Linked DNA regions of Homo sapiens. The main gene of each other region encodes a partner of the protein of the gene in region 2 in a complex. Each region holds a gene or a part of one and is shown on either strand. Other genes may lie near its edges.

Region 1 (5,419 bases), on a different chromosome or scaffold from region 2:
GCTAATTTTTGTATTTTTAGTAGAGACGGGGTTTTGCCATGTTGGCCACGCTGGTCTCGAACTCCTGACCTCAGGTGATCTGCCCGCCTCGGCCTCCCAAACTGCTAGGATTATAGGTGTGAGCCACAGCGCCTGGCCGGATATGTTTCTATTTCTATGGAGAATGTCATTGGTATTTTTGGTAGGGATTGCATTGAATCCATAGATTGCTTTGAGTAGTATGGCCATTTTAACAATAATAGTTCTTCTGATCCATGAATATAGGATGTCTTTACATTTGTTTGTGTTCTCTTTAATTTCTTTCATCAGTTTTTAGTTTAAAAATATAGAACACTTCACAAATTTGGGTGTCATCCTTGTGCAGGGGGCCATGCTAATCTTCTTTGTTCAAGTTTTGGGTATGTGCTGCTGAAGTAAGCACTGAAAGAACTTTTCTCACAGGGTCTTTTAACCTGTTCCTCCTACCAGGCTTTCTTGGCTTGCTGTTTAACTGTGCTCTTGGGAAACCTCTTTTTACCATTCTTTTGGAGATTCCTTTTAGCTTCGTAGAGGAACCCGTTTCCTGGGTGTCATGTCTTTCCTGTTACTCCCCTATTTTCTGATACAGCACATCTTCCAGTGATTCTTGAGGGTTCAGGGATGGAAAACATTGAGGCCATACATCTCTGCAGGGATCTTTATTCTCTCCCCATGTTTGGTAAGATTTTGATTGAATATAGATGTAGATTGGAAATCATTTTTATAATTTTGAAAGCATTTCTCCATTGTAGACTTTTCTGGCTTCCAGAGTTGCCTGAAGTCTTGATCTTTGCTCTTTGGCCTGTTTCTTCTTTCTGGAATTGTTAGACTCTCCTCTTTTGCCTCCATTGTTCTGATACATCAGGATGTGTCTTGATGTGGGTTTGTTTTTATCGTTTGTGTAGGGAGTGCAGCATGCTCTTTTGTGAACTTCCATTTTGGGGAATTTTCCTGAATTATTTATTTGAAGATTTTGTCCCCTAATCCTTCCTTTCCTTCTTACCTTTTGTCTTTGTGTCATACTTTCTCAGATTTATCTTTCATTACCATTCTGTTGAGATTTTAACTTCTGCTGGGCGCAGTGGCTCACGCCTGTAATCCCAGCACTTTGGGAGGCCAAGGCGGGCAGATCACGAGGTCAGGATATCGAGACCATCCTGGCTAACACGGTGAAACCCCATCTCTACTAAGAAATACAAAAAATTAGCCAGGCGTGGTGGCGGGCGCCTGTAGTCCCAGCTACTCAGGAGACTGAGGCAGGAGAATGGCGTGAACTCGGGAGGTGGAGCTTGCAGTGAGCTGAGACCGTGCCACTGCACTCCAGCCTGGGCAACAGAGCCAGACTCCATCTTTAAAAAAAAAAAAAAAAAAAAGAGAGATTTTAACTTCCACTATTTCTTTAATTTCTAAGTATTCTTTTTTATTTTCTGGATGTTTCCTTTTTATGCCCCTCTGGGTTCCCCCCCACCCAACTCTCCAGTGGATGAAGTATTCATTAAAGATATGGAGTTCAGATTTTTCTCCTTAAAATTTTGTTTCTTTGCTGAGTCAGTTTTCCCAAAATTGCTTTTATTATTTTTGTCTCAGTGTTTCTTATTAAATACTGTCCTCAAATGCCTGGTACTCCTTGGCTACCTGTAGTTGTTATGAGTGTAGGACACGTAAATACCACTTAAATCCTTTCTACATTGATAGGGCTTACAGATCTTGAATTTCATTGTAGATTTATCTGGTTTATCTAGCATTATTTTACTTGGGAAAGTTTGGATGTTAGTATCCTTCATTCTTTTCACTTAGTCTGTCAGATACCCCAAAGAAGATGCATCCAGTCTCCTGCATGGAGGGTATCAGAGAACTTCATTTGCCAGTGTTCTGGGAGCTAAGATTGGGAAGATGGCTGGAGCGCTCGGTATTTTGTGAATATCGAGCTACACTTAATTCCTGTTTTCAAAATGATATTCTTGCCCTTAACTGTATGTGGTGTCTCCCAGTCCAGACACTTCTACAAAGACTAAAACACTAAACTTCTGTTCTGGTGCGGTGGAAGAGGAGAATTACCATCTTTTTTTTCTTTTTTTTTCTTTTCCTTCTGAGATAGGGTCTCACTCTGTTTCCCAGGCTGGAAGGCAGTGGCAGAGTCAGGGCACACTGCGTCCTCGACCTCCTAGGCTCAGAAGATCTTCCCACCTCAGCCTCCTGAGTAGCTGGGATTACAGGTGCACGCCACTACGCCTGGCTAATTTTGAAAAATTTTTTATAGAGATAGGATCTCGCCATGTTGCCTAGGTTGTTCTCAAACTCCTGGGCTCAAGCAGTCCACCTGCCTTGGCCTCCCAAAGTGCTAGGATTATACGCATGAGTCACTGCACCCACTGATAATTACCATCTTTGTGTTGGTGTTGGGAGGGATTGATTCTGGGTATCTGCTTCTAAACATACTCTGCCATCCTTTTTTTTTTTTTTTTTTTTTAATTCCCACTACATCCTCACTTCCATAGGTATCTGGAACCTAAACATTTTGGGTATGTTTGGTGTAAATGCAATTGCTTCTGTTCTTTCCCTACTGCTCGTTTAGTATCAACTCTAGTCAGCCTTCCAGCTTCTAAACCTATATCTTTGTAAAAATCCCTTGTTGTTTTAATGCACTTTTCAAAGAAGATAGAGCTAAGTGTATTTGTTGATTTCACTGTCTTTAACCATAAGTCCAGGGTGCCCTTTTCCCCTTGGTCATAGGTAAGTTGTGTGATTTGTTGGAGGTGTCAAGTATGTACTATGTGTCAGTGGAGAAAATAGTTTTCTTTAGATTAAAAGACCAGAATATTTTAATTCTTTGCATGTTTTTATATGTAAAGGTCAGAGTCTTTAATTTAAAAACCTATCATGTTGCGGCCGGGTGCAGTGGCTTACGCCTGTAATCCAGCACTTTGGGAGGCCGAGGTGGACAGATCACAAGGTCAGGAGATCGAGACCATCCTGGCCAACATGGTGAAACCACGTCTCTACTAAAATACAAAAAATTAGCCAGGCATGGTGGCACGCACCTATATAGTCCCAGCTACTGGGGAGGCTGAGGCAGGGGAATCACTTGAACCCAGGAGGCAAGGGTTGCAGTGAGCCAAGATTGTGCCACTGTACTCCAGCCTGGGCAAGAGAGCGAGACTCCGTCTCAAAAAACAAACAAACAAACAAAAAAACCTATCATTTTGCCCTAATGAAGTATTTCTGCTTTAACTATTGCAGGTTCGGCTTTCCAGTTTGGCAGCAGCACTACAAATTTCAACTTCACAAACAACAGTCCATCAGGAGTGTTCACATTTGGTGCAAATTCTAGCACACCTGCAGCCTCAGCCCAGCCTTCAGGCTCGGGGGGCTTTCCATTTAACCAGTCTCCAGCAGCATTTACAGTGGGGTAAGAGAATTTTTTATTGAAATGGAGAAGTTACATTGGTAAGGGTATGTGCATGTATATGTTTTGTTTTTAAAAGTCATCAAGATTCCGTATGGTTTGGGTAAAATTAAATATGTTCTCCAACATAAATTTACCATACTATAATTCTGGAGGATTATATTACAGTTTGAGAAAAAAATAACAGTAGCGTGTGTGTTAGGTGTAGCAGAAAATGTATATACCAATGTGAGTCTACTCCCCCCCCACCCGACCCCCCTTACCCTTGTGCTGCTCATGGTAAATGTTAGCATTTGGAAATTTTGCTCAGAGCATCATGTCACATTATGAAGTTTTTATTTTTCACAGGTCAAATGGGAAAAATGTGTTCTCTTCTTCTGGAACTTCATTCTCTGGTCGCAAGATAAAGACTGCTGTTAGACGCAGGAAATAAAGGTCACATTGGTGTTGTACTCAATTTTAACAACAGCTGGTGCCCTGCTTTCAGATACTGGATTGTACTTTGTGCTGGGGTTATCTGAAGTCAGATCTGCCTAAGGACTTCTTTAATTTTGGAATTTTCCTCCTTTCTCTTTCGTTACAGAAGCCCCACCCTGCCTCACCCACCCTTTTTTAAATAAATAAATAGCTAGACTGGTGACTGATTCTTCAGCAAAAATATTTTATGATCCAGCAGATTATTCACTGATTTGACATAGTCTGGCTGTACCCAGGAATGGAGCCTGCACGGTGAATGGCTTTGTATAGAACCTCTTTGTCTACACCATTATGTGCGCTGATAAGCGTTCATGGAACGCGTTGAAATTGTAATTATATCTGAGGAATTCTGTATAGATTAGAATTCTGTATAGATTAGAGAGTGTTGAAACGGATGATTTCTATGCTGAGTTTGTGCTGGTGTATGTGTGAAGTGAGTGAGTTGGGTGTATTGTGCGCTAAACTTTTCTGATAGAGGAAGCCTGATTAAAGAATGGTCCGTGCTAAGGACTTGTTAGATCTAGTTCACTCTCCATTTAATAATTATATGCTATTTCTATATTTTCATTCTCCTATCACCTGTCTTGCCTTTTTCATTATTTTATTATGAAACTTGTGTAAATACAATTTTGTTTCTGTACTTTTTGGCATAACATAAATCTGTGAACTTGAAATTTGAATTTTGTGTTAGAGATTTTTTTGTTGTTTGTTTAGTCTTGTCTCAGATTTTATTATGTAAATCCCATTATTCAAAGTTGCCTAAATCCATTTGGAAATCTTTAAAAAAAAAATTGGGGATTCTTAAAGTTGAATTTATTGGCTTTTCTGATCCAGTTTTGTTTGGACCAAAAACCAGTATTGTACAAAGTATTAAGCATATATTTTTATATTTACTAAAATGGACTGTGGTGACTTTGGATAATAAGGAAAAGTTTAATATTAAAGCCATGTTTATTACAGTATAATTAACATGTTAAACCATGGGATAAATGCCATCAATAAAAAATTATGACATACTTTTTGTTCTAGTTTTACCTCATAATGAAGGCACACAGTATTATTGGGGGGACTTTGTAAAATAAAGATTAACAGTGTCTCATTAGAAGAATACATTGACATGATTTAGACAACTCCTAAGAGAAAGGGAAAGTATCTGAAAGTATCTGAATGCACAACATATAGAAGGTACCCTACTTCTTGCCTGGTGCTAGGAATCATGCCTAATTTGCATATCGACTTAGGTACCTTTTTTAAAAGTTGAAAATACACACATTCATTTCTCTTTGTGCTTCTATCTTCCTTGGTAAGTTACTGGATAGTGTTTATTAAAGTTCTTGGAAATACATACACAAAAACTACAGTTGTCTCTTGGTGTGTGCAGGAGATTGTTCCCAGAACTGCACTCCCCCCCCCCCCCAGTTCTCCCGCCCCCAAACCACAATCCACAAATTTCAGCAGTGGACCCTGCAGAACCTGAGTATACCAAAAGCCAGCCCTCCGAATGTGCAGGTTTTATAT
Region 2 (6,869 bases):
TGATATAATTTATTTAGCTAACTTCTACGGTTGAACATATATACCAGCAGCTCTTAACAGAGGTGATTTTGCCCCCTAGAGGACACTGGGAATATATGCAGATATTTTCAGTTTTCACAATTGTGGGATGTTATTGGCATCTAGTGGGTAAAGGTCAGAAGTTGGAGTTCTTGTTCTTGGTGGGGTGTTGTTTTGTTTTGTTTTGTTTTGTTTTTTTGAGTTGGAGTTTTGCTCTTGTTGCCCAGGCTGGAGTGCAATGACGTGATCTCATCTCACCACAACCTCTGCCTCCTGGGTTCAAGCGATTCTCTTGCCTCAGTCTCCCTAGTAGCTGGGATTACAGGCGGATGCCATGAAGCCCAGCTGATTTTTGTATTTTTAGTAGAGACTGTGTTTCACCATGTTGGTCCAGGCTGGTTTCGAACTCCTGACCTCAGGTGATCTGCCCACCTCAGCCTCCCAAACTACTGGGATTACAGGTGTGAGCCACCGCACCCAGCCTGTTTTTTTGTTTTTGTTTTTTTTTTTTCTTTCTGAGACGGAGTCTCCCTCTGTCACCCAGGCTGGAATGCAATGGCATGGTTTTGGCTCACTGCAACCTCCGCCTCCCGGGTTCAAGTGATTCTCCTGCCTCAGCCTCCGGAGTAGCTGGGATTACGGGTGCCTGCCACCATGCCTAATTTTTGTAGTTTTAGTAGAGACGGGGTTTCACCATATTGGCCAGGCTGGTCTCGAACTGCTGACCTCGTGATCCGCCCACCTCGGCCTCCCAAAGTGCTGGGATAACAGGCGTGAGCCACTGCGCCTGGCCATATTGTTGCTTTTGAAACAGGGTCTTGCTGGAGTATAGTGCTATAACAATCGTAGTTCACTGCAGCCTTGACTTGAACTCCTGGGCTCAAGAAATCCTCTGGCCTCAGTCTCCTTCCTCTTGCTGTAGCTAGGGCTACAGGTATGTGCCACTAGTTCCAGCTAGAGTTTTTTTTTTTTTTTTTTTTTTTTTTTTTTTTTTTTTTTTTGAGAGGGAGTCTTACACTGTCGTCCGGGCTGGAGTGCAGTGGTATGATCTTGGCTCACTGCAACCTCCGCCTCCAGGGTTCAAACGATTCTCCTGCCTCAGCCTCAGTAGCTGGGACTACAGGCGCACAACCGCCATGACCAAATAATTTTTTGTATTTTAGTGGAGACGGGGTTTCATCTTGTTGCCCAGGCTGGTCTTGAACTCCTGAGCTCAGGTAATCCGCCCGCCTCGGCCTCCCGAAGTGTTGGGATTATAGGCGTGAGCCACCGCGCCCGGCCTTTTTTTATTTTTTATTTTTTGAGACAGCATCTTGCTCTTGCCCTGTTGCCCAGGCTGAGGCCAGAGATTTTGTTAAATAATGTACACTGTGCCCGGTTCAGGAGCATTAGTTTTATTAGGCTGCATGAAATGTATCCACTTAAGACTTTACCAGGCTGGGTGCGGTGGCTCATGCCTGTAACCCTAGCACTTTGGGAGTCTGAGGCGGGTGGATCACCTGAGGTCAGGCGTTCGAGTCCAGCCTGACCAATATGGCGAAACCCCGTCTCTACTAAAAAATAAAAAATTAGCCCGGCGTAGTGGCGTGTGCCTGTAGTCCCAGCTGCTCGGGAGGCTTAGGCAGCAGAATCGCTTGAACCCGGGAGACGGAGGTTGCAGTAAGCCGAGATCGTGCCACTCCACTCCAGCCTGGCGACAGAGCAAGACTCTGTCTCAAAAAGACAAAAAAAAAAAAAAAAAAAAAAAGACAAAGAAAAAAAAAAGAGAGAGAGAGCTTGTTAGATCTTAGTGCTATATTTCCTTGATTATTTTTATTTTAAGGCTGACAAAATGCCATTTAAGATAATAAAAGTAGTTAAATTGCCTGACCAAGAGCTAGATAACATTGAGGAAAAAGTATTGGCAATATTCTTTGGTCTAATACTGCTATATACCAACCATTTTACCCAATCATTCAAATAGGCTTAGTAATACAAGGGCGAAAAAGGAAAACTACAGCTAATAGTGCTATCCTTGTTCTTTTTTTTTTTTGAGACGGAGTCTCGCTCTGTCGCCCAGGCTGGAGTGCAGCGGTGCAATCTCGGTTCACTGCAAGCTCCGCCTCCCCGGTTCACGCCATTCTCCTGTCTCAGCCTCCCGAGGAGCTGGGACTACAGGCACCCGCCACCACGCCCGGCTGATTTTTTTTTTTTTTTTTTTTTTTTTTTGTATTTTTAGTAGAGATGGGGTTTCACCGTGTTAGCCAGGATGGTCTCTCTCTCCTGACCTGGTGATCCACCCGCCTCGGCCTCCCAAAGCGCTGAGATTACAGGCGTGAGCCACCGCGCCCGGCCTATCCTTGTTCTATATACTGATTACGCATACTATATATGGACCTTTTCCTTCCTCAACCTTTCTATAGATTTCTAAGAATAAGGTTTTGATGAAGTAGTTTATGTATCCTTCTTTTTCAGTTAATCCTAATGGAAAACGGTTGGAAAAATGAAACAATTATCTTACAACTTATTTTTCTCTTTCCTCTCCTCCCCTCTCTCTAAAAGAGTGTGGCTCCTTCCCCTCTCTTTTCCCCTTCCTCTCTCTAGAGTGGTTAACTCTCAAACTGTATTTAACTCTGGAAAAGTTTTCAATTACACAGGCGATAACTCCAACTTGAGGTATAACGGAAACTTATTAAGAGAAAAAGAGCAAAATAATTTTTTTTTGAGACTCAGCAAAATAATTTTTTTTTTTTTGAGACGGAGTCTCCGTCTGTCGCCCAGGATGGAGTGCAGTGGCGCGATCTTGGCTCACTGCAACCTCCGCCTCCCGGGTTGGAACAATTCTCCTGCCTCAGCCTTACGAGTAGCTGGGATTACAGGTGTCCGCCACCACTCCCGGCTAATTTTTGTATTTTCAGTAGAGACGGGGTTTCGCCATGTTGTCCAGGCTGGTCTTGAACTCCTGACCTCAGGTGATCCAACCACCTCGGCGTCCCGGAGTGCTGGGATTACAGGCGCGCGCTACCAAGCACAGCTAATTTTTTTTTTTTTTTTTGAGACGGAGTCTCGCTCTGTCTCCCAGGCTGGAGTGCAGTGGTGCGATCTTGGCTCAATGCAACCTCCACCTCCCGGGTTGGAACAATTCTCTTGCCTCAGCCTTCCGAGTAGCTGGAATTACAGGTGTCCGCCACCACGCCCGTCTAATTTTTTATATTTTTAGTAGAGACGAGGTTTCATCATATTGGCCAGACTGGTCTTGAACTCCTGAACTCCAGTGATCCACCCACCTTGGGCTGCCAAAGTGTTGGGATTAGAGGCTTGAGCCACAGCGCCGGGCCTTCAGGGGTATCGATTTTGTTCCCGTGCCTCTTGTGTGTGTTCTAGTGTGGAAGTGGAGGCGATTGCTTTCCAGCACAAGCCCGTTTGACTGTCGGGGTTTGGACAAGTGGCTGCGACGACACTAAGGTGGAGACCGGGATGTAGCGAGGACTCCCAGAGTTGGGAGACGTTGTACGCTTACTGGGACCTAAATCCCGCACGAGTTCCCACCCAAGTGCCGCCGCCCCAGCCTACGCACGCGCATTCGCACCGTCTCCAGCCCCGGGGTCCTCCTGCCCCTCCCGCCGTCTCCGGGGGCCTTTTCTCCGCTCGGCACCAGGGTGTCCCCGGCGCCGCCTGATCCTGTTAGCGCGGTACTCTGAGTGCAGTCAGTCCTCGGCGCTGTTTTCCCTGATTTGCTGTCGACGCCAGGAAGGAAGGACGCGTGCAGAGGACCGCAGAGGGGTGGCCGTGGCTGAGAGGAGACAGCGCCGCAGCACTGAGGGTTTGGGCTTGCAGGCGCTGCAGGAGACGCCCAGGCGGAGTCTTGTCTCGCAGCCAGCTCTGAGCGGGAGGCCTGAGCGGGAAGCATTGGCGTCCGAGCGACTTCTAGGAGCCTGGGGTTCGGCGCTATGGAGGAGCTCGATGGCGAGCCAACAGTCACTGTAAGGGTACCCCGAACAGGCTTGCTCGTCCTTGCGGGTTGAGAACTGCGTCTGCTTAGTTACTTCAGGCTTGTCTGCTTCCCTAGTGGTCGCGAGGCGCTCGTCCCCTTCCCTCGACTCAGTTGCCACTTTTCCGGAGGTCGCAGTGTTAACGAGGTGCCCGCCCTAGGGTCGCAGTGGTCGCGGGGTTTCTGCCACCAGTCACAAACCCCGGCCTCGAAGGTCCCACTCCGTCCCTTTCCTTCCTTTGTGTTCCTGGCCTTTTTACTTCCCTTGCTTTTCCTCTTGGGCATTAGAGTGGGTTCAGCCCAAGCAGAGGAATTTATATTTTTATTCCAGCCGTATTAAGCTCTGCATCGCGGCACATTGAGCTTCTGCCTGTGTGGCCTAAGGTTTATTCAACGTATTATCTCAGGAGACTATTCCTGTTTTATCGCTGTGCATTCAATTCCATTTGAACTTTGAAGACAGTATGTCAACTGTGGATGATCTGTGATGTGTATAAAAAAAATTCACGCGCTTTATGTACGAGATACCTACCGTTTCTGCTAGTTGGATTGCTCTTGTTTTCCCTCTTGTTAACCAGAAGTGACTGAGGCAGGTCTCAACCGATAAAGGTTTAATTAGCTAAGGTTGAGGATCCAACCGGGAAAAAGCACAGGTCACAGGAGGATCTGAGACCTGTGCTTTTTCCAAAGATGGTTTTGGGAACATCACTAGTTAAAGAGGAAGGAGCTAGCAGGAGGGGCAAAAAAGGGAGGTTAGGCAGTGAGGAGGCAAATGATTACATTCTTGTGAGTCGGTGATTAGCCTCAGTAAATCTGCATTTTACCTGTGAAAAGAGGGAGCAGAGGAAAATTTTATGTATGCATTCATCTCAGGGTAGGTAGAGGGATTATGGTTATTATTACTGTTATTTTTTAGACGGAGTCTCGCTCTGTCTCCCAGGCTGGAGTGCAGTGGCGCGGTCTCGGCTCACTGTAACCTCCGCCTCCCGGGTTCACACCATTCTCCTGCCTCAGCCTCCTGAGTAGCTGGGACTACAGGTGCCCGCCACCACGCCCGGCTAATTTTTTGTACTTTTTTGTATTTTTAGTAGAGACGGGGTTTCACCGTGTTGGCCAGGATGGTCTCAATCTCCTGACCTCGTGATCCGCCCACCTCGGCCTCCCAAAGTGCTGGGATTACAGGCGTGAGCCACCGCACCCGGCCGATTTCTGGTCTTTTACTTGTGAAGATAAGCTGGTAGTTGACATTGTCAGAATCAACAGATCTTGATTTTAGGACTAGTTTATAGGGGCGATGTGTATCCTGAAAATTTTAGAGGCTCACAAGGAATTTCCTTGTGAGCAATTTGTGAGGGAAGCTCTCTGGGGAGATATGTGGCCTTCTTTTTTTTTTCTCTTGAGGCGGAGTTTCCCTCTTGTCGCCCAGGCTAGAGTGCAGTGGTGCGGTCTCGGCTCTCTGCAACCTCCGCCTCCCAGGTTCAAGCAATTCTCCTGCCTCAGCCTCCTGAGTAGCTGGGATTGCAGGCATGTGCCACCATGCCCGGCTAATTTTGTATTTTTTTAGTAGAGACGAGGTTTCTCCATGTTGGTCAGGCTGGTCTGGAACTCCTGACCTCAGGTGATCTGCCGGCCTCAGTCTCCCAAAGTGCTGGGATTACAAGTGTGAGCCACTGCGCCTGGCCTCATTCTTTTTTTGAGACGGATTCTCACTCTGTCACCCAGAGTGGAGTGCAGTGGCGTGATCTCAGCTCACTGCAACCTCTGGCTCCTGGGTTCAAGCGATTCTTCTGCCTCAGTCTCCTGAGTAGCTGAGATTACAGGTGCGTGCCACCACACCCAGCTAATTTTTGTATTTTTGGTAGAGATGGGGTTTCACCATCTTGGTCAGGCTGGTCTCCAAAGCCTGACCTCGTGATCAGCCTGCCTCGGCCTCCCAAAGTGCTGGGATTACAGGCATGAGCCACCGCGCTTGGCTAGGAGTTCGAGATCAACCTGGCCAACATGGTGAAACCCCATCTCTACTAAAAAAATACAAAAATTAGCCTGGTTTGGTGGCGCGTGCCTGTAATCCCACCTACTCAAGAAGCTGAGGCAGGAGAATCACTTGAACCCAGCAGGCAGAGGTTGCAGTGAGTCGAGATTGCGTCACTGCAGTCCAGCCTGGGCAACAAGAGTTCGAACTCCTGACCTCAGATGATCTGCCCGCCTTAGCCTCCCAAAGTGCTGGCAGGAGCCACCCCGCTGCCGGCCCAAAATGAATTTTTCTTACCAGTGTTATAAGGAAATGTTATTGAAGGATACAGTGTTATTAGAGGACCAGCTGTGCTCTTCACTTAAAGTGTTTTTCAGCAGGGCGGGCACGGTGGCTCGCGCCTGTAGTCCTAGCACTTTGGGAGGCTGAGGCGGACGGATCACCTGAACTCAGGAGTTTGTGACCAGCCTGGGCAATATGGTGAAACTCTATCTCTACTAAAAATGAAAAAAAAAAAAAAAATAGCCGGGTGTGGTTGCACACACCTGTAGTCCCAGCTACTCAGGAGGTTGAGGCAGGAGAAGCCTTTGAACCCAGGAGGCGGCGATTGGAGCAAGCTGAGATTACACCACTGTACACCAGCCTGTTAGAGTGAGTCTTTGTCTCAAAAAAAAAAAAAAAAAAAAAAGAATGGAACAACTTCAGTAAGAAGAACATTTTTCATTTTAGATTTCTATGCCTTATTTTACTAGTTGATTCCAGGCGTGAATTCCAAGAAGAACCAAATGTATTTTGACTGGGGTCCAGGGGAGATGCTGGTATGTGAAACCTCCTTCAACAAAAAAGGTAGGGTTTTTTTTCTTCCAAATTATCCATCTTGGCACATTTGGTTGTTTTTCTGTTTATTAC

Evidence for each region. Proteins that work in one complex are often made in the same cells at the same time.
Region 1: NUP85 (region 2) and NUP153 share a complex: the UniProt entries of both Homo sapiens proteins name them as parts of the nuclear pore complex.

The regions. Positions count from the first base shown.
Region 1 is NC_000006.12:17,614,535-17,619,953, reverse strand, and holds the end of NUP153 (nuclear pore complex protein Nup153), read left to right. Parts: intron 1-3,258; coding exon 3,259-3,427; intron 3,428-3,772; coding exon 3,773-3,857; 3' UTR 3,858-4,917; downstream 4,918-5,419. UniProt on the Homo sapiens protein: Component of the nuclear pore complex (NPC), a complex required for the trafficking across the nuclear envelope. Functions as a scaffolding element in the nuclear phase of the NPC essential for normal nucleocytoplasmic transport of proteins and mRNAs.
Region 2 is NC_000017.11:75,201,815-75,208,683, forward strand, and holds the start of NUP85 (nuclear pore complex protein Nup85), read left to right. Parts: upstream 1-3,864; 5' UTR 3,865-3,947; coding exon 3,948-3,980; intron 3,981-6,712; coding exon 6,713-6,806; intron 6,807-6,869. UniProt on the Homo sapiens protein: Essential component of the nuclear pore complex (NPC) that seems to be required for NPC assembly and maintenance. As part of the NPC Nup107-160 subcomplex plays a role in RNA export and in tethering NUP96/Nup98 and NUP153 to the nucleus.